Regions from separate parts of the Homo sapiens genome. Here region 1 is linked to region 2. A link means that fine-mapping ties the variant in region 2 to the expression of a gene that starts in the linked region. Tissue or cell type: whole blood. Region 2 holds a variant in brackets; the other region holds the start of a gene. All regions are shown on one strand. Distances are between the middles of the regions.

The links. PIP is the estimated chance that this variant, and not a neighbour inherited with it, causes the effect.
Region 1: AASDH starts here. The variant in region 2 is fine-mapped to the expression of AASDH in whole blood (INTERVAL, PIP 0.97).

Annotation. Positions count from the first base shown.
Region 1 is chr4:56,382,973-56,393,525 of GRCh38, reverse strand. AASDH (aminoadipate-semialdehyde dehydrogenase) reads left to right here and starts at 6,035. Exons shown (of 15, transcript NM_181806.4): 1 at 6,035-6,164; 2 at 9,185-9,456. The coding sequence starts at 9,227. It overlaps PPAT (phosphoribosyl pyrophosphate amidotransferase), which reads left to right. Exons shown (of 11, transcript NM_002703.5): 11 at 1-164. RefSeq lists enhancers at 5,691-5,740, 5,603-6,109, 5,771-6,140, 6,110-6,617.
Region 2 is chr4:56,347,851-56,358,403 of GRCh38, reverse strand. AASDH (aminoadipate-semialdehyde dehydrogenase) reads left to right here. Exons shown (of 15, transcript NM_181806.4): 6 at 2,981-3,222; 7 at 3,593-3,699; 8 at 4,193-4,365; 9 at 4,808-5,000; 10 at 6,947-7,062; 11 at 8,346-9,141. It also overlaps the pseudogene RPL7AP31. Among named protein-coding and RNA genes, the nearest start is that of AASDH, 34 kb to the left of the region's middle. The variant T/C (reference allele first, on the strand shown) is at 5,047.

The DNA.
Region 1 (10,553 bases), 35 kb before region 2:
AAATGTTGTTTAACTGCTTTAAATTCATATACGTAGAGTATTATAAACTGCAGAGATGAAAAATGTGTTTTCACGGGATTTATATTGTGAACTAAACTAAGCCTACTTTTTGTGACTTATTTGTGATGCCTTGTTGATAAATATGTGTAATAAGTATGTTTAAATATGTGTGTCCTTTTTTTTTTTTTTTTAAATAGTGACTTTAGTTAGTGCTTTATGGTAAACAGCATGGAGACAACTTCCAGGCTCCATTCTTGGCACCAGCTAGTCATATCTTATTTCTCTGATCCAGGCATTTCAATAAATAGGCCATCTCTTATGAACCAGGCAAAACTGCTGGTTGACTATGAGGGACAAATTAAGTAATTAGAAAAGCAGTACTAAGTAAGCACTACATCGTGGCAAGTTCCTAGGAAGCACTATGGGGAAAGAGGGAGTGTCATGGAAGAGCAGGATTAGATTCAAAGTGTCAGGGTGGGTAGGTAAATGAATAGATAAACTGTAGTACATTCAGACAATAGAATATTATTCAGTGCTTAAAAGAAATGAGCAATCAAGCCATTAAATGACAGAAGGAACATAAATGCATATTAACTAAGTGAAAGGCACCACTCTGAAAATACCACTCTGAAAATATTGAAGGTATCCAAAGAAAAAGTCTCCCATGTTAAGGATAAACTGGTCACAGACAAGAAAGATTACTAGTAGGGCACCTGCCAGTGTTAAGAAAATTTCTGTGCAACTAGGTAAACCTTGGTCGCTGGACTGGATCTTTAATTCTTCTAGGTTCCTCCAATCCAACTTTCTTCCATAGAATTACTAAAAACGAGACTTGCTATGTTCTTAAAGCCCAAGCTCAAACTTAACTGAATTTTAAGGGAGAAATCTCATGCCCAAAGGTTCACAAAACTGCCCAATGCTATAACCAGAGACATTAAAACTGTAAACCAGAATGAAAAGCTAACATCTCCATACTGTGGGCAGCTTTTCCCAAGATGATGGAACATAACTCCCCATCCTAATGACACTCTTGCCCCTCTTAATTCTTCCTTGTTTATGCCTACCTCTTTGATTTGGCAGGATAATTTCACAATCGGTAGATATTGTGGGTGACTTGACAGAATCTGACTTCATAAATCCTTTAGTCCACCCAGGGGGTAATACTGGCAACATCCTCAGTAAACTTTTTGTTCAAATTGTACTAATGGTCTTTTTTAAAACAGAGTTAGCTCTCTCTGCTTTAATTCAAGCCAGTCATGGAATGCTAAGTAATAGGATTGCTGTGTACCAGCTAAACAAAGAGATGTCTGTGCTTTTGCTCATACTACATGCTGTACCTGGATACATTCCTTTGGGGAATTTATATACACAAAATAAGAAAATAGCCCACATGGTATAATAAGTCTCACCTAATTCTTCATGATCATTTGATTTATTCAACTGGTTGTCTTTAAGCCTAGGTTCACGGCTGAAAACTATTATGCTGAGATTGTTACTTTGTATTTTCTTTTTTTTTTTTTTAAGAACTTTATACCTGTTTCTTGTCAAATTTGCATAGAAATGCAACTCCTAAGAGAATAATGCTCTCCCAGCACTTTGAGATGATAGACAGTGCCTATGGAACAGACAGAATTGAACTTAACAGTGGACTCCAGGTAGACTTAGCCTGAGATCCACTCCCTCCAAACCTCTTTTGTTGTTCAAATGTGGCTAAAGGGTTTTGATGCTAATTCCTAGTTACCAGTGACTCCCTTCAACATGAGGGCAGACTGGCACCAAGAGATATCAAAACCTAAATACAGGATGATTGATCAGTGATGCTTTTGAGAAAGACCTTGATCAAAAGGGGAAATGTGAAAGTTGTCAGATTCAAAATGGAGTCACTCGTATTAAAACCCTGGCAAACGGAGCCAGGAAACGCCATGAAGGGGAAGGGTTCTCATGTACATATGGTTGATAACAAGAACTATCAAAAGACTACAAAAATTTACAACCTGCACAAAGGCCACCACAACCTTAAACACAACACACACACACACACACATACTTCTGCAACGACATCTGCCTAGCAACTGCCTATCTAACTTATGGACTGACACCACCCTTACCACGCTTGTTATTGTTAAAACAAACAGTGAGGTTTATTTTTATTTATTTATTTATTTTTTGAGATGGAGTCTCACTTCGTCACCAGGCTGGAGTGCAGTGGCGCAATCTCGGTTCACTGCAACCTCCACCTCCTGGGTTCAAGTGATTCTCCTGCCTCAGCCTCCAGAGTAGCTGGGACTACAGGCGTGTGTCACCATGCCAAATTAATTTTTATATTTTTCAAAGAGACGGTTTCACTGTATTGGCCAGGATGGTCTTGATTTCTTGACCTCGTGATCCACCTGCCTCGGCCTCCCAAAGTGCTGGGATTACAGGTGTGAGCCACCACCACTCCTGGCCTTCCAGTGTACTTCCATAGTTACATATTCTTTCCTCGTGCCCTGTGAAGAGGTGCCTTCCACCATGATTTTAAGTTTCCTGAGGGCTCCCCAGCCATGTGGAACCGAGTCAATTAAACCTCTTTTCTTTATAAATTACCCAGTCTCAGATATTTACTTAAAGCAATGTGAGAACAGACTAATACACCTGTCAAAACACCAAGCCTGAAAAACTCAACCACTAATTTGCTCTCTGCCTTCTCCTGAGCAGCTGAACACTTAGAGTAACTCACACAATGCCTTATTATCCCAACTGTGATATGTGGTACAACAGCACATAACAGGAGGACCTAACCTTGTTTCAGGTAGGGTCAAGGATTTTCCAAATTATTTTTGAACTTTTTAAGGAAACAATGACATTGACAACTGAGAGATAAGCCTTAAAATAAGTAGAGTGTGCCAGTCAAGGTACAAAATATCAGCAGGGTACAGGGTGGGCATTTGATATTTCCCTGCAACTGGAACAGTGTAAGTGGATGGAGCTGAGTAAAAAAAAAAATAGTTTGGGAAACAAGCGCCTAAGACATGAATCCCTGCTATAAGGGTGCTATTTAGTATAGGAGGTCAGATTTGGAAATAATGCAGCAACAGTAACAACTGATGCTGTAAGAAATATATGTCGCTGTCTGGGAAGGGTCTGGTATTGAAACCTATTTTAAAGTTAGTAAGATAGCCTGTTAACTGTTTTATGGCAGTAAACTTGGATTCCTGGGTGACAAAGAACTTTGTAATTTATGGCAAAAGCAGAAGCCAGAACTTCATGTTTATGCATTTTCCATGTCCCCCAAGTCCCACCAGGATGGTGAAGATGGGCTTCCATGGATGTCTGCACATGCAGTCAGTGGGTTACATTATAGGAGAGGAATACTGAGTTTGGGGGATTCCATACTTTTGTAGTTAAGTGGAAGCAAGCCTACTCTTTGGGAAGAATACTTCAGCTATGAAACTGATCATCCCAAACAACCCTGAAAAATGATCTAGGTAAAGAGCAGTTAGGACCTTACATTCTTGGCAAACCCAGAATTTGCAGGTCCCATGACAAATGACCCCTCCCAAGAGTATGATGGGTTCGTGGGATGGAGTTTGGAGGAGTCTGGATAAATTATTCTTTAGGGCTTGAAGAAAGGCATCACTGAGGAAGTCATGTTTAAGCTGTATTTTCATCAAGCAGGCATGGAGAAAGAAGGGTATTTCAGCCTGAGCCCAGCCAAAACAGGTGTGGAAACATGATAAGGACTTTGTATTCTCAGAACTCTTACTAGCCTTTCATTATGACTAGAGTTTACAGTATCAGGTGTGGGGAATGTGGAAGATGGGTGGGGGAGCAGTGGCCTGCTGTGAGATATCAGGTTGGAAAGAAAATGAACTCTCTTGTTTACCTTGCTGAAGAGTCTGAATGTTATGCAGGCAACGAGGGATCATTGAAGCTTCTTATTCTCATAGAAGAATGCTATGACTGATCTGGTATATGTTTTAGAATGATCACCTTGGATTATCAGGTAAAAATGCTGTCTTAAACATAGTGTTCTACATTTGCTCCCTAAGACTCCCTGAAAATGACAGTAACAGGATTTTTAAAGTCATACACCCTTAAGGATTAAAGAAAAGGAATAATGGAAATGAAATTCTGGAATCAATAGCAAAGGGCTCAGTTGACTTGAAAAACCTGAATTCTAAACCCCCAGTGAGCAAAACCAACAAGCAATTCTATTTGTATCACAGAACCCCCTAAAAAACTAAGAAACTGGCTTCAGGAAGTAGAAGTGAAGAGGGTACCTAAAAGGACTGGAAGTTCATTTAGGAGAGTGTTATATCCTTTATGCCACCCCCGGCCCCCGCCTTATTCTGAAGCCTTTTTTTATTGCTCAGGAGTAAAACGGGGTCTCTGTAATGGAGGACATCAGGCACCTAAAACAAAGAGAATTAAGTGAAAATTGTACTAAATTCTGAGACATACCGCAGCCTCCATACCCCTCCTCTCCCACTTGATTTTCAACAAACGTCCCATGGGCTCAACAGCTTCCAATCAACTTTTAAATATACCCCCACTTACATATGAGCAGATAAGGACCACCAGACATCCTAGGAAAGCCTCTAATGTGAAAGATAGAGCACAAAATCAACAGAAGAAAAAAAAAGGAAACTTGAGGGAAATAGATACTGCAAGGGAAGAAAAACTTTAAAAAAGGTATCATTAATATCAGAGAGTTGGATGATGATACTGGAATAATAAAACATCATTTTGGCAGCAATTCAGAGTCAATCAGAGGCAAACAAAACTGAAAACGTTTTAGGAAAAAGCTGACCAAGAAGACCTGAACTAAAGTAGCAGTAATGGCGATGAACATGACACTTAAAAAACGCAGGTTCTAGGCCCCTCACTAGAAAACTAGGGGATGAACCTCCGGGGATGGAGTCCAGGAATTTGGAATCTTCTAAAACATCACCACCGGCAATTCTGATGTAGCCAGCTGGGTGCTGGTCTCAAGACTGAGAACTAGAGGACATAGGGTCTAATCGGATGTAAGAGGTTAAGAAAGTGGGAAGGTTGATAACTGTCTGGCTGGGTGGATGATGGTGTCATCCCAACGTAGAAACATAGAAACATAGACAAGATACACTTTTGCCCACTTCCAACCTAAATACATAAATAAGGCTGTGTTAGTTTGAGTAGTCCATGGTACATCTTGGAAAAGTATAGTTGGCATGTGGAGATATTTTTTGCTTAGATTAGAAGCACAGTTTCTTGTCACCAACAACTACGGCTGCGAGAGCGTCCTATGCTTTTTTCTCACGTACTGTTTTGATGCAGAGCTGTCTTCGCAGTCCCTCCCCCGGCTAAAACCCCCCAAACAAAAAAATCCCGATTATTCTGCCACCAGACAGTAGCTTTAAAACACCTCTGTTATTGCCCTTGACGCTTATTGTAATAATTGACATGTCTCCAACTGTAACAATTCCCTTGGAAACAGAAAGTTCTATTCAGGCATATAGTTTACAAAACTCCACCTCGGACCTGCTTTAATTTCTTTACAGGTCCTACTAAATGCTCCTGTCAAATTCCTTAGTTATCGTTTCAATCTGCTTCCCAATTAAAATGTCAGCATCATGATGACAGGAACGTCGTTTGCAGGCGTCACTGCTGCAGCCATATCTCCAGCACGTTTCCAGAAAATGTCATTGGTTGAAAGCAATAACTCTCCTATTTCACAATGATTTCATCTCTCTTCACATCAACCCTAGGTGATGTTTTTATTCTCACCTTATGAACGAGAATACTGCGGCTCAAAATTCAAGAGTCTTGCCCAGAGTTTTTTGGCAAGTACGAAAGGGTTATGGCTCCAAACTGGTTAGCTCCGAAGTCCTTGCAAACCCTGTCCGAGACCATGCGCGACCCCAAGGAGCGCCTGAGCAGATAACCAAAAGTGAAAAAGCCTATAGACCTCTTCACTCAAGTTAGCGCCTCGGCTTCAGGAGAGGCAGCGCCAGCTCCACGCAGCCGGCCCGGGGTCGCTCGCACTGACGTCACGTAGCGACGCGGAAGATTTACGTATGGTGCCTCGCTCTGGGATAGCTTTACGGCTTCTGGGAGCTGCTGCTTCGCTGTGAGAAGTATCCGCGACGAGCTATCCGGGAAAGGGCCGAATGCGATCAAACCTAATCCGCGAGACTTGCTAAGTGAGTCGCGGCAGGGCGCGGTGTCCGGCGGGGGTCTGTGTGAAGGAGGCGAAGTGCCGCTAGGCCTGAGCCTGCTTCCACATACATTTGCTCAGCTTCAGGACCACTGCCTGACCTCGGATTTGATACATCGGGGTCTGGCGTGCTGGTGTGGTGCAGACTAACCCTGACCTGTGTGTACACTCCTGCGTCACTAGCCTCCGCCCCTCCATTCAAATGGAAATAAGTGTGCTCCGCGCTCAGCTACCCCCTAGAGTGGTTTCGAAGAGCAATGAAGAAATGTTTAGGAAGCTGTAAATTGCATTGTTACTCGTTGCATACCGTAAATTTAGAAGCCGGGGAATTGGGAAAATAAAGTTTCTAGATTATTTATCCATTTTTAAAACAGCCAGTGGCCTAGAGAGAGGCCCCATAGCAATTGAATTTGCTGACACTCTTAAGATCTTTGTTGACTAAATAGCAGCTTCTACAGTTGTAGCAAGTAAATTTATTCCTTTTACATGTAAAATCTGCTTACCAGAGTTTGCTTTTTTTTTTCCTTTTTTTTTTTTTTTTTTTTTTTGAGACGGAGTCTCGCTCTGTCGCCCAGGCCGGACTGCGGACTGCAGTGGCGCAATCTCGGCTCACTGCAAGCTCCGCTTCCCGGGTTGACGCCATTCTCCTGCCTCAGCCTCCCGAGTAGCTGGGACTACAGGCGCCCGCCACCGCGCCCGGCTAATTTTTTGTATTTTTAGTAGAGACGGGGTTTCACCTTGTTAGCCAGGATGGTCTCGATCTCCTGACCTCATGATCCACCCGCCTCGGCCTCCCAAAGTGCTGGGATTACAGGCGTGAGCCACCGCGCCCGGCCTTTTTTTCCTTTTTAAGGTCTCAAACATTTGGGCATTAATAAGTTTAGTATTCTCTACTGCAGAGAATGTTATTTGTGATTCAATGAATGAAAATGAAAACCTGAGACAAGAAGAATGGATTTTACCTTAAATGTCTGTAGCAACCATTGGGAAAATGGAAAGAAACATCTTAATTATCGTATAGATGTGTAGGTACCCTTCTGCGCTACCTGTATGTTGCGAAATGAACTCATTCCTCATAATTTAAGCGCCTGCTGCAGAAAGCCTCCCTTATATTTACATAATGATCATTGTATGTCTGAGGAAAGCTTAAAATTGTATCTTGTGCATTAAAAAGAGCTAATATTTATAGAAATGCCTACTAAAAATAAATAATGTAAGTACTAAAGTTGCCTTATATGTTTAAACTGTATATTTAGAAATCACAGCATTTTCAAACTTATGGGTCTTGGCAGTTATTGGTTCATTTTACTCTCTTTAGGATTTCTTTTTCCTAATTGATGTTAATTAGTTGATATAAATGAAAATTTTGAGTCAGGAAATCAATTCAAATAGGTGTGAATAAATTAAAAAAAAAAAAAGAAAGAAAAGAAAACTTGACTCGGCCGGGCGCGGTGGCTCCGCCTGTAATCCTAACATTTTGGGAGGCCAAGGTAGGTGGATCACTTAGGTCAGGAGTTCAAAACCAACCTGGCCAACATGGAGAAACCCTGTGTCTACTTAAAAAAAAATAACAAAAACAAAAATTAGTTGGACATGGTAGCGCGCACTTGTAATCCCAGCTACTCGGGAGCTTGAGGTGGGAGAATCGCTTGAATCTGGGAGGCAGAGGTTGCAGTGAGCCGAGATCACGCCATTGCATTCCAGCCTGGGGAACAGAGCGAGACTGTCACAAAAACAAACAAAAACTTTACTGAAGCAGGCTACTTGGTAAGTCTTAATTGCTTTAAAATATGGAAAACAGAGTTCAGAGAGGGAAAAAAATAACTTTCACCTTTAAGGAAACACTGTGAATTTTTTTTACCGTTGATCCCGAGTGTTTCTTTCTTGAAATACTGTTTCGAATCTTTTAATATAATCTGCATTAAGAAACCCAGAGAACATTGCATTGATATACTGCTTTATTGAGTTGTAATATTATATTTTCAGTCTAAGTGAACTTATTGGCAATTTAAAAATAAACTATACAGTATGAAGAGTTTACTTCTTGACAATTATACAAGTATGACTTCTGTAAAATATTAATAGTATAGTAATAAACACTGTTTTTATATATAGTTGTCTAGAACTGAATGAATAGGAATAGGGTTTTTTGCTTTCTTCTGTCAAAGATTGATTTTGCTTTCATCTGAGTTTAGCTCCTACTGGAATTTAAAAGCAAAGTTTATTTACATTAGTCATTTTATTTTATCTTTATTTCATTTACTTATTTATTTTGAGATGGGGTCTTGCCCTGTCACCCAGGCTGGAGTGCAGTGGTGCCGTCTTGGCTCACTGCAACCTCTGCCTCCTGGGTTCAAGTGATTCGCCTGCCTCACCCTCCAGAGTAGCTGGGATTACAGGTGTATGCCACCTTGCCCGGCTAATTTTTGTATTTTTAGTAGAGACAGGGTTTCACCATGTTGGCCAGGCTGATCTTGAACTCCTGACCTCAAGTGATCCACCCACCTCGGCCTCCCGAAGTGCTGGGATTACAGGTGTGAGCCACCGCACCCGGCCACATTAGTAATTTTAAAGTCACCATACAAGATTTTGACTACTCTATCTTAACAAATCTGTAACAGTTACTGAAGGAAAGTAAAAAAAAATTAAGTGTGGGGTCCTTTAAATTTGATTTTATTGATTAATTTTTTATATATTTCATATTTACATTGTGGTCCGTTGAGAGAGAAGTCTCCATTTTTACCTGCTTCATTTTCATCTGTGTATACCACTGCCCTCCCAAATTTTTTTGATGCTCTGACCCAGCATAGGTTGATGTATCAAGTTAATTTTCAACCTCATTGTCCTCAGTAAAGTTACCATAATTTCATAAGTTCAGAGATTCTTCATTTATATATCTTTGATATAATTATTTTTGTGAGATATTATTGTAGAGAAGTTTTTCCCTGTCCCTCCACCGAGCTCTCTAAAACTCCCTCTCCCCCTAACACTTCTGTATATACACAGGGTTCTGTGCTACAAATTGATGTTTAGATAAACTTCAGTGAAATGACTCTTCAGGAATTGGTGCATAAGGCTGCCTCCTGTTATATGGACAGAGTAGCTGTATGTTTTGATGAATGCAACAACCAGCTTCCAGTTTACTACACCTACAAGACTGTGGTTAATGCTGCTTCTGAATTATCAAATTTTCTGCTGTTACACTGTGACTTTCAAGGAATTCGGGAAATTGGTCTCTACTGCCAACCTGGGATAGACTTACCCTCTTGGATTTTAGGGTAATATTTTTTAGAACTGTAAATTTGATGTTACTCCAAGCTAATGTAAATTTTTAATAGAGTATATTGCAAGTTATTGTTCTGTTTACTATTGGACTTTTCTATATTGTTTGGTCAATTGTAGAGAGACTAAAGAAGTTTGCATTTCCCCAGTATTATTTTTATATTATTTAAATTAATTATTCTGAGCTTATTTAGGAAAGACTAGAAGCTTTCACTAATAGAACGTATAAGTATCTCCAAAATGTAAGGGCTTCATTAATCTGTTAAAGGAAAACAATTATAACAATTTATAACACTTTGTTGTTAGATAAAAGAAAACAGGATTTCACAGATAACATGACTATGTTTTTTGTCCGCAACTGAAATTTGAGGCACTAAGGTATTCAATAAATCAGTAAATTAGAGTTTTGGATAATAGTTGATATAGATTGAAATATGAACCCATTAGAAGACACTATTCCAACAAATATTTGCAAAATGTTCAATCATTTAAATTGTTCTAGAATGTTATCCTCATATAGTGATTTCTATTCTAGAACTCTGCAGTAAGTATAAACTGCCAAAGAAATAGTTTATTCATTCTATAATATGTGTCTTAGTAAATTAATTATATAAATATAAAGCAAAAGATGTTCAAAAATTTACTTTTGGCCAGGCACAGTGGCTCACACCTGTAAATCCCAGCACTTTGAGAGGCTGAGGCTGGAGTATTATTTAAGGCCAGGAGTTCGAGACCACCCTGGTGACTTCACAAGACCCCATCTCTATAAAACAAATAAAAACAACAACAAAAATTTACTTTCACTCAATTATTGACGAAATTTATTGAGAATTTACTATGTGCAAAGATCTAGTGTCCTTAAAGTATACCTGAAACTACTTAAAATGCTTAACTTTAAAAAAATCTTGTATTTCTCTATATTAAGTGATAAGAATTTAACATAGTAAATACTCAGGATTTTCATTAAGAAAAGATAAAATGACAGTGTTTATGTATTTATTTATTTTTGAGATGAAGTTTCACTCTTATTGCCCAGGCTGGAGTGCAACGGCGTGATCTCGGCTCACCGCAACCTCCGCCTCCCGGGTTCAAG
Region 2 (10,553 bases):
TTTGCCTTTGCCACTTCAACATTCTGGTGGTTCTTGCCAGTACAATAAGGTAAGAAGGAAAAAAACTAAAGATACTTACATTGGACAGGAGGAAGTACAACTCTTTATATGCAGTTGATGTGATCCTGTATATAGAAAATATTGTAGAGGGGTGGGGCTGGTGAGGAGGACTACTAGAAATAATAAAGTTTAGTCAGGTTGGAGGATAGAAGATCAATATACAAAAATCAATTGTATTTCTATATATATATTTGTACATATATATGTATATGTATTAAAGAAAAATCTAAAAATGAAATTAAGATAATATTTACACTAGCATCAAAAAACAATAAAATAGGAATAAAGCTAAAGAGCAAGATTTGTACACTGAAAACTATAAAGCATTGTTGATAGAAATTAGAGACCTAAATAACATTTTGTCTTTATAGATTAGAAGTTTTAATATTGTTGAGATTGCATTTCTCCCCAAATTGATCTGTAAATTAAACACACTTCCCAGCAAAATCCAGTAGGCTTTTTTGTTAGAAATGAATAAGTTGATCCTAAATGTTATATGGAACAGTGAAACCCAGTCCTGATCCATACTATAGAATACCACTTAGCAATAAAAAGGAATGAAACTGTTGATACACTTAGCAGCATAGATGAATTGTATCTATTATGTTGAGTGAAAGAAGGCAGGCCAAAACAGGCTACTTATTTTATGATTCCATTTATATAAATGGAATATATAATTTCTATTCATAATTATATATAATTATATATATAATTTATATTAATGGAATTATACAAGATTATTCTGATCTGTAGCGACAGAAAATAGATCAGTGGTTGTCTGGATAAGGGGTCCAGTTGGAGAGGAGACTAACAGTGGTACACAGGTAGTTTTGGGAGTGATAAATATTGCTGTCATCTGAATGTTTGTGTCTCTCCAGAATTCATATGTTGAAATCTAATCCCCAATCTGTTGGTATTAAGATGTGGGGCCTTCAGGAGATCACTATGTCATGAGGGTGGGAACCTCATGAATGAGATTAGTGCTCTTATAAAAGAAGCCTGAGGTTGCTTTTTGGTTCCTTCTACCATGCGAGAACACAGCAAGAAGGTACCATCTATGAAGTAGAGTACTCACCAGACACTAAGTCTGCCCATACCTTGATCTTGGACTTCCCCATCTCCAGAACCGTCAGCACTACATTTCTTACCTAGTCTACAGTATTTTGGTTATAGTAAGCCAAATCAACTAAGACAGTTATGTTCATTATTTTGATTGTGGTGATGGTTTTACTAGTATATACATAAAACATATTAAATTGTATACTTAAAATAGTTTATTATATGTCAGTTATATCTCAATAAAGCTTTTGTTATAAATCTTTATTCATTATTGTTTTACTTAGGCACATTTTTAAAGGAAAATTTCTATTATTTTAATTATTTTTATTTACAGAAAACTCAGCAGTGTACATTTAACCCAGTTTAGTGGCAGGTTCTTTAGCGTTTGCCTTTTCGAGCTTGGCGATGCGAGCCACAGACTTGGGAGCCAGGACATTGCCGCCCCAGTGACGGTGGATCTCATCGTATCTGTCATTGTAATTGGTCCTAATAGCTTCCACTAGCTTAGCCAAAACGCCTTTGTCTTCCAAGTTAACCTGTGTGAAGGCGACAGTGGTACAGGTCTTCCTGTGGACTAGACATCCCAGTCTTCCCTTCCCCTTGATAATGCAATAAGGGACCCCCATTTTATGACACAGGGCAGGCAAGAAGACAACCAACTCGATGGGAGCCACGTGTGCAGTCACCACCAGCTGAGCTTTCTTTGTTCTCCACCAAGGTGTTGATGGTGTTAACTCCTGCTCGAAGGACAGGTGGTCTCTTACTGGGGACATCCCCTTTGCCAGCAGCTTTCTTCTCAGCCCAGGTCAACAGCCTCTGCTTCTTCTCTTGCTTTGTCTCTGGTCTGTACTTGTGGGCCAGCTTAAGCAGCTGAGTAGCTGTTTGGCGGTCCAGGGCCTGGGTGAACTGGTTAATCGCAGGAGGCACTTTCAGCCGCTTATTGAGGGATGGCTCTCTGCCGCTGCAACCTGATAGAGCAGGGCTATTTCACAAAGCTGGTGAGGTCTCTTTTGGGCTGGATGTCTTGCTCAGTGCCAAAATTCTTAGGCCTTTTCTCAAACAGGGGATTCACCACTTTCTTGTCCTCCTGCTTCTTCACAACAGCAGGGGCCAGAGCCACCTTCTTTCCCTTGGCCTTTCCTTTTGGCATCTTGGACGGCGGGAGGAGAGAGCTACTTAGGCACATTTTTAAACCCTTTTGTATACTTTTTATACAGAGTAAGAAAGGAAAGGTAAATTGATTTTATAGATTTTGTCCTTTTTATCCTAAACCTTTTTGTGTAATCAGTATGATGAAATATAAGTAATATTTTTGCTTGAGTTTTTTTCTAAAGCATAAGTGATACCCACATTAGGAAGATAATGTTGGGCCAGGCATGGTGGCTCATGCCTGTAATCCTAGAGCTTTGGGAGGCCAAAGTGGGAGGATTGCTTGAGCCCAGGAGTCCAAGACCAGCCTAGGCAACACAGGCCCCATTTGTACAAAAAATTTTAAAAATTAGCTAGGTGTGGTGGTACGTGCCTGTAGTCCCAAGCTGTTCAGGAGGCTGAGGTGGGATGATGACTTGGGCCTGGGAGGTTGAGGCTGCAGTGAGCCATGGTCATGCTATTGCACTGCAGCCTGATCAACAGAGTGAGACCCTGTCTCAAAAAACAAACAAACAAAACCAAAAAAAAAAAAAAAAAAAAAACAAGAAGATAATGTTGCACCAGTAGTTTTCCAAATGGGATTTCCCATTTGATAAACACAGCCTTCATTTCCATGTGGGCTCCAAATGTTAACTTTGAAATAATAACTACAGTGCTTACCTTTTTAAAGAAGTGAAGGAAAATAAATAAATTATTTTTAATGTATCTACAGGCAACACCAACATTGCTTAGAAGATTTGGATCTCAGCTTATCAAGTCAACTGTTTTGTCAGCCACTACTTCTCTTCGAGTATTAGCCCTTGGTGGTGAAGCGTTTCCATCATTGACAGTTCTCAGAAGCTGGAGAGGAGAAGGCAATAAAACACAAATATTTAATGTTTATGGTATCACAGAGGTATCAAGTTGGGCGACCATTTATAGGATTCCAGAGAAGACTCTTAACTCTACTCTCAAGTAAGGGTTTTCATTGTACTATATAGAGAAGAGAGACTGTATATTTCTAGGATCTTAACACTGACAGTGTTTTTGATAGGTGCTGGGGTAATAATTTTAGAAACACGATTGTATCTGATATTTTAAGTTGGGAATCCAGAACCTTCCTTACTATAGCTGGTGCCAAGATACTGCTGCAACTTTTTGTACTAAATAGTAATGAATAACATATATGGTTACCTTTCCACCTAACCTTTTCCTCTTGTCAGTCTTTGAATTAGAGCGTAACAAACTTTTTTTTCTTTATTTGGTACAGTATGATTTAAATATATTGGAAAATATTCTATTCAAATGAAAAATTTTAAATCTGCTCTGTATCTTATTTTCATAGATGTGAATTGCCTGTACAACTGGGATTTCCACTTCTTGGAACAGTAGTTGAAGTCAGAGATACTAATGGCTTCACAATTCAGGAAGGCAGTGGCCAAGTATTTTTAGGTTGTTTTATATTTGTTGATTGGGAATTTTTTTTTCAAGAAAAATGATCTGATGTGTTAATTTTATTCCTTTCGTCTTTTTCTTTTGTCTATCTCATGCTTTTCAGTGATAATTTTTATTCTCATTCATATAGTCATGAAATACCAAATGTTACAATAATTATTTCAGATAATAATGTCTAACACATTAATAAAAGTAATTTAGAGACTGTAACTTGGACCTTCATATTTATATTTATAGCCAAAATTATATTTAATCAGTAGTCTAAGAATTTTTTTAATTCCATAAATTTTAAGAAATAAATTTCATTTTATCTCTGCTTATTTACTGAACTTATTGTGTCTGATTTTATCAGATAACATTTTAAAATGAGCCCATCTTTTAATATTTAAATTTTGAAGTTTAGTCACTGAACTTTTGGAGATGTTGATTTTATGGTTTTTAATATATTTCCCTTGGATTTTTATGACATTGGTGTTTATATCTTGGGAAGGTGGCAGAAACAGAGTGTGTTTTCTTGATGATGAAGTGACAGTACCACTTGGCACAATGCGAGCTACAGGAGACTTTGTGACTGTGAAAGATGGAGAGATTTTTTTTTTGGGACGAAAAGACAGTCAGATCAAACGTCATGGCAAACGTCTTAACATTGAACTTGTGCAACAGGTAGAACTATTTAAATATTGAATATCTATTAATATATGTAAGTAGTAGAAGCAGCCACCACCAATTTTCTGTGCTGGGGTCTCTATTATTTACACCTGACATTTTTGTGTTAGTGATGAATTACAATAAAGGGTATGAATAATTCAGGGTGCCCCTTATCCCCAGCATGAAGAGATGGTTATTCTTTAAATAAGTGACAAATTAGATTTTGATATTTGTGAAATTTAACTGGCTTATTTTGCTTTAGGATCTATTATTTTGAAAAATATTATGAACCCTATGTGCAAGTAATAGTAACAGTAGCAAAGCAATTTTTTAAAAATCTCCAGTATATTCCAAAATTTAATTCAGCTGTTTTGATTTCAGACATTAAAAAAATAAGCTTTTAGGAAGCTTGTTTGTAAATATCCTCATTGGCAAATTAGGATAATCTCTCTTATAGGTTGCTGAAGAGCTTCAGCAAGTGGAGTCTTGTGCAGTTACATGGTATAATCAGGAAAAATTAATTCTCTTCATGGTGTCTAAAGATGCTTCAGTAAAAGAATACATCTTTAAAGAACTGCAGAAATATCTTCCAAGTCATGCAGTCCCGGATGAGCTTGTATTGATCGACTCTCTACCATTTACATCCCACGGTAAAGTAATTTAAAGCAGATATGTTTCAGTGCCAAATAATACTAA[T/C]TGTATTCATAACTAGCTTAATGATAACATAAATCTTTATTTTTATAAATGGTACTAGCATTTATTGTGATAGACCCTCTTTTGACTGCTTTGTCTAATTAATTCATTTTATCTTCAGAAAATCCTGTGGATAGGTGGTATTATTCCTATTTACAGATGAAGAAAATAAGGCTTAAAGAGGTTAAGTAGTTAGGTGAGGCATGGTGGTCAGCGCCTGTAGTTTCAGCCACTCAGGGAAGCTAAAGTGGAGGATGCTTGAGGCCGAGAGTTTGAGGGCACAGTGTGCTATGTTTGTGCCTGTAAATAACCACTATACTCCAGCCTTGGCAACATCTAAAAAAAAAAAAAGAGGTTAGGTAATTTTCCAAAAATCATTTTGCTAGTTAGTGGTTATATTAGTATAGTAGTCATGGTTCTCCAGAAACAGAACCAATATATAGATAGATAAAATATTTATTGTCAGGAATTTGCCCATGCAATTATGGAAGCTAAGAAGTCTAATATCTCCCTTTGGCAAGCTGGAGACTCAGGAAAGTCGGTGCTGTATCCAGTCTGTGTCCTAAGGCCTGAGAATCAGGGGAGCTGATGATATAAATCCCTGTTTGAGGACAGGAGGAGATGAGATGTCCTAGCTTAAGCAGTGATGCAAGAAAAAGGGTGCAGGCCAGGGGCGGCAACTCGCGCCTATAATCCCAGCACTTTGGGATGCCAAGGCAGGTGGATCACTTGAGGTTGGGAGTTTGAGACTGGCCTGGCCAAAATGGTGAAACCCTGTCTTTACTAAAAATACAAAAAAATTAGCTGATTGCAGTGGTGCACGCCTGTAGTCCCAGCTACTTGGAAGGCTGAGGTGGGAGGATCGCTTGAACCCAGGAGGCAGAGGTTGCAGTAAGCCGAGGTTGCGCCACTGCACTCCAGCCTAGGCAACAGAGTGAGACTCCATCTCAAAAAAGAGAAAGAAAAAGCATGCAAATTCTTCCTTTCTCTGCCTTTTTTCTATTTTGGCCCTCAACAGTTTGGATGATGCCCAATCTACTTTACTGAGTCCTTAATTAGTTTCATCTACTAATCTCATCCAGAAGCACCCTCACAGACCCAGTCAGAAAAATGGTTAATCTGGGCACCCTGTGGCCCACCCACATTGACACATACAATTAACCTATCACAGTGATAGAATTGATATTCTGTCTAGGACTGTTTTTTATTTTAATTTTATTTTTATTATTGTTTGTTTTGTCTGTCTAGGACTGTTTGACTTCAAAATATATAATCTTAATCACCATATTATATTGCCTTCCCAATTTCATTTTTATTTAATATATACTTCAACATGCAGTAATTGCTCAGGTAATGGAACTATTTCCTTAACTCTTGAAATTGAGATAAATTGGATAAATATTAGCTCCTTTTTTCCTTTTTCTTTCTTTTTTTTTTTTTTTTGGAGATAGGGTCTCACTTCTTCACCCAAGCTGGAATGCAGTGGTGCAGTCAGGGCTCACTACTGCAGCCTCAACTTCCTGGGTTCAAGTGATCCTCCCATCTAAGCCTCCCGAGTAGCTAGAACTACAGGCCAATTTTTTAATTTTTCTGTAGAGACAGGGTCTTGCTGTGTTGCCCAGGCTGGTCTTGAACACCTAGCCTCAAGCGATCCTCCCACCTCAGCCTCCCAAAGTGTTGGGGTTACAGGACTGAGCCACTATGCCTGACCTGTTTCTCATCTATTTCTCTGTATATTCTTGGTAGTATCAGACAACTTTTTAGAATTGATTGTTGACAACAAACTCTTTATATGATTTCTGTGTTGTACAAAGAAAAATGTATATGGCTAATGAATATATAAAGGCTTTGAGTGAAATTTTAAAATGTTTTAAAACATTTGTTATTTCTCTTTTATATTAAGGCAAAATTGATGTTTCTGAGTTAAACAAGATATATTTAAACTACATAAACTTGAAGTCTGAGAATAAGCTCAGTGGGAAAGAGGACCTTTGGGAAAAATTACAGTATTTGTGGAAGGTACAATTTTTAAGTTATAAAATTATTATTATAAAGAGGTCGTTTTATATCTTTAGGGACTGCTATTATCCTAACAAGTTGGATAAAATTTTCTGAGAATGTTATTGCTACCCAGATGTTAGGTAGTATATCTTCATTTATCCAATTTGTATTAAAATGAAGGTTAGATTCTCTACTATAAGACTAGATTAAGTTTCCGACAAAGAAATTTATTGAAAGTGAAGTAGTCATAAAAGGCACAAGTAGACAAAGCCTGTTTTGACATAACTTTTCTCTAAGAGGATCGGTGGAATGTAGTAACACTCTTGTCAGAGCTGAGAAAATAGCCAAATCTTGCTATAGCACAGTGCGTTGTCTGTTATACTTAGGGCTTACATCATTATTCTAAAAGAACTTTCAGTAACAATATTTATTTCTACTTGAGAGAGTTTGTTTAAAAATATATCTCAGTAAGTTAATAATTTTTCTTAAATAAAATGTAGATTTTTCTTTTTTAAAGGGTTCTGAAAAGAGGATGTAATTGTGTAGCCTTGTCTAAAAATAGAGGGTATCTAAGATAAAAGTCTCTTCTACTTCATTTTTAGATTCTTGGAAAGTAATTTTGCTTTATATGAAGCAGCCAAAGACAAATTATTCCCATATTATAGAAATATTGGCTATTGGTATCTTGTGGGCTTTATAATTAATAAATCAGATGTTTTTGTCCCAATTTTATGGGTAAGAAAACTGCTCTAAAGGGAAGTATATTTTGTACTTTTAGAGTGAATTTGTGACAAAATTGGTAGTACAGTGATCTCCTTTAACATAAATAAAATAATTTAAAACTTTATTTTTATTATTAAAAGTATTTATTTTATATTTCTAATTGTTATTATTATTATTATTTTTGAGATGGAGATTCACTCTGTTGCCCAGGCGGGAGTGCAGTGGCGCAATCTTGGCTCACTGCAACCTCCACCCCCTGGGTTCAAGCGATTCTCTTGCCTCAGCCTCCGAGTAGCTGAGATTACAGGTGGCTACCACCGCACCCAGCTAATTTTCGTGGTTTTAGTGGAGGTGGGGTTTCACTGTGTTGGCCAGGATGGTCTCGAACTCCTGACCTCATGTGATCTGCCCGCCTTGGCCTCCCAGAGTACTGGGATTACAGGCGTGAGCCACTGTACCCGACCTATATTTCTAATTATTAATGTAGGTACTCTCATCTCTATATATTACCTGTAAATGTTGAAGTCTTTTGCTTTTAGACCTTTACGTCACATATTTCTCTATTCTCTCATCTGTAGTCTACTCTGAATCTCCCAGAAGATCTTTTGAGGGTTCCTGATGAGTCACTCTTCTTAAATAGTGGTGGAGATTCCTTAAAGTCCATCCGGCTCCTCAGTGAGATTGAAAAACTTGTTGGTACATCAGTACCTGGGCTTCTGGAAATTATTCTCAGCAGTTCCATTTTAGAGATTTATAATCACATCCTTCAAACAGTGGTTCCAGATGAAGATGTGACATTCAGGAAGAGTTGTGCCACAAAAAGGAAACTCAGCGACATTAATCAAGAGGAAGCCAGTGGAACATCTTTACATCAGAAAGCCATCATGACTTTCACTTGCCACAATGAGATTAATGCTTTTGTTGTACTGAGCAGAGGGAGTCAAATTTTGTCTCTGAATTCCACTAGGTTTTTAACAAAGTTAGGACATTGCTCTTCAGCCTGTCCTTCTGACTCAGTTTCACAGACCAACATTCAAAATTTGAAAGGCTTAAATTCTCCAGTTCTTATTGGGAAGTCAAAAGATCCATCCTGTGTTGCAAAAGTTTCTGAAGAGGGGAAACCTGCGATAGGGACTCAGAAAATGGAGTTACATGTGAGGTGGAGGTCAGACACAGGCAAATGTGTAGATGCTTCACCGCTGGTTGTAATACCCACTTTTGATAAGTCATCTACAACTGTGTACATTGGTTCCCATTCTCATAGAATGAAGGCAGTTGACTTTTACTCTGGGAAGGTAAAATGGGAACAGATTTTGGGAGATCGAATTGAATCCTCAGCATGTGTATCTAAGTGTGGAAACTTTATTGTGGTGGGTAAGTTTTTGAATTTGAGGTTTGTGGAGTTAAATTGAATTACCATACAATAATCTTCATAGGCCCAAGTTAAATTTTTTAAAAATCTAAATATGATGGGTTTGGTTGCTGTCCAAAAATTATAGTTAACCCTGTGCTGATTAATATTGTGGGCCTTGGGGTCAAGAGTCCCTGGATTTGAACCTACCTGTATAGCTATTATGAACTCTGTGACCTTTGGCAAGTTACTGAACCTCTTAGAATTTCACTTTCCTTGTGGGTAAAATGGGAATAATAATAAAATGTGTTGCTGTATCACAAATACCCCAAAACTCAACAACCTAGAACAACACAAATTTATTGTCTCATAGTTTCTATGGGTCAGCAATTCAGGAGCAGCTTAGCTGGCAGTTCTGGCTCAGGGCTTTCACGTGGCTATAGCCATCTGAAAGCTTGACTTGGGTTGGAAAATCTGCCAAGGTAGCTCATTTACATCACTATTAGCAGAAAGCCTCAGTTCTTTGCTGATTCTGGCAGGAAGCTTCAATTCTTGCCACATACGCCTCTCTCTAGGCTGCTTGACTGCCCTTACAACATGGCAGCTAACATTCCTCAGAGTGATCCAGGAGACAGCAAGTAAAGAGGAACAGAGTACCTTTTATGACCTAGCGTTCCAAGTTCCATACCATCATTTTTTGTTTTCTTCTGTTAATTAGAAGGGCATAACTCAGCCAGGCGCGGTGGCTCACAGCTGTAATATCAGCACTTTGAGAGGCCAAGGTGGACAGATCGCTTGTGCCCAGGAGTTCGAGACCAGCCTGGGTAACATGCAGAAACTCTGTCACTACAAAAAATACAAACATTAGCTAGGCATGGTAGTACATGCCTGTAGTCCCAGCTACTTGGATGGCTGAGATGGGAGGATCACTAGAGCCCAGTAGGTTGAGGCTGCTGTGAGTGGTGATTGTGCCACTGTACTCTGGTCTGAGCAAGCAGAGCAGGACTCTGTCTCAAAAAAAAAAAAAGTGCATAACTCAGTTCAGGCCACATTCAAGGGGAAGAGAATTAGGCTCCACCTCTTGAAAGGAAGTACATCAAAGAATTCATGTACTTTTTTTTTTTTTCTTTTTTTTGAGATGGAGTCTGGCTCTGTTTCCCAGGCTGGAGTGCAGTGGCGCGATCTTGGTTCACTACAACCTCCACCTCCCGGGTTCAAGTGATTCTCCTGCCTCAGCCCCCTGAGTAGCTGGTATTACAGGCACATACCACCACACCCAGCTAATTTTTGTATTTTTTGTAGAGATGGGGTTTCACCATGTTGGTCAGGCTGGTATTGAACTCCTGACCTTGTGATCCACCTGCCTCGGTGTCCCAAAGTGCTGGGATTACAGGTGTGAGCCACTGCACCCGGCCTCCTGGACATATTTTAAAAC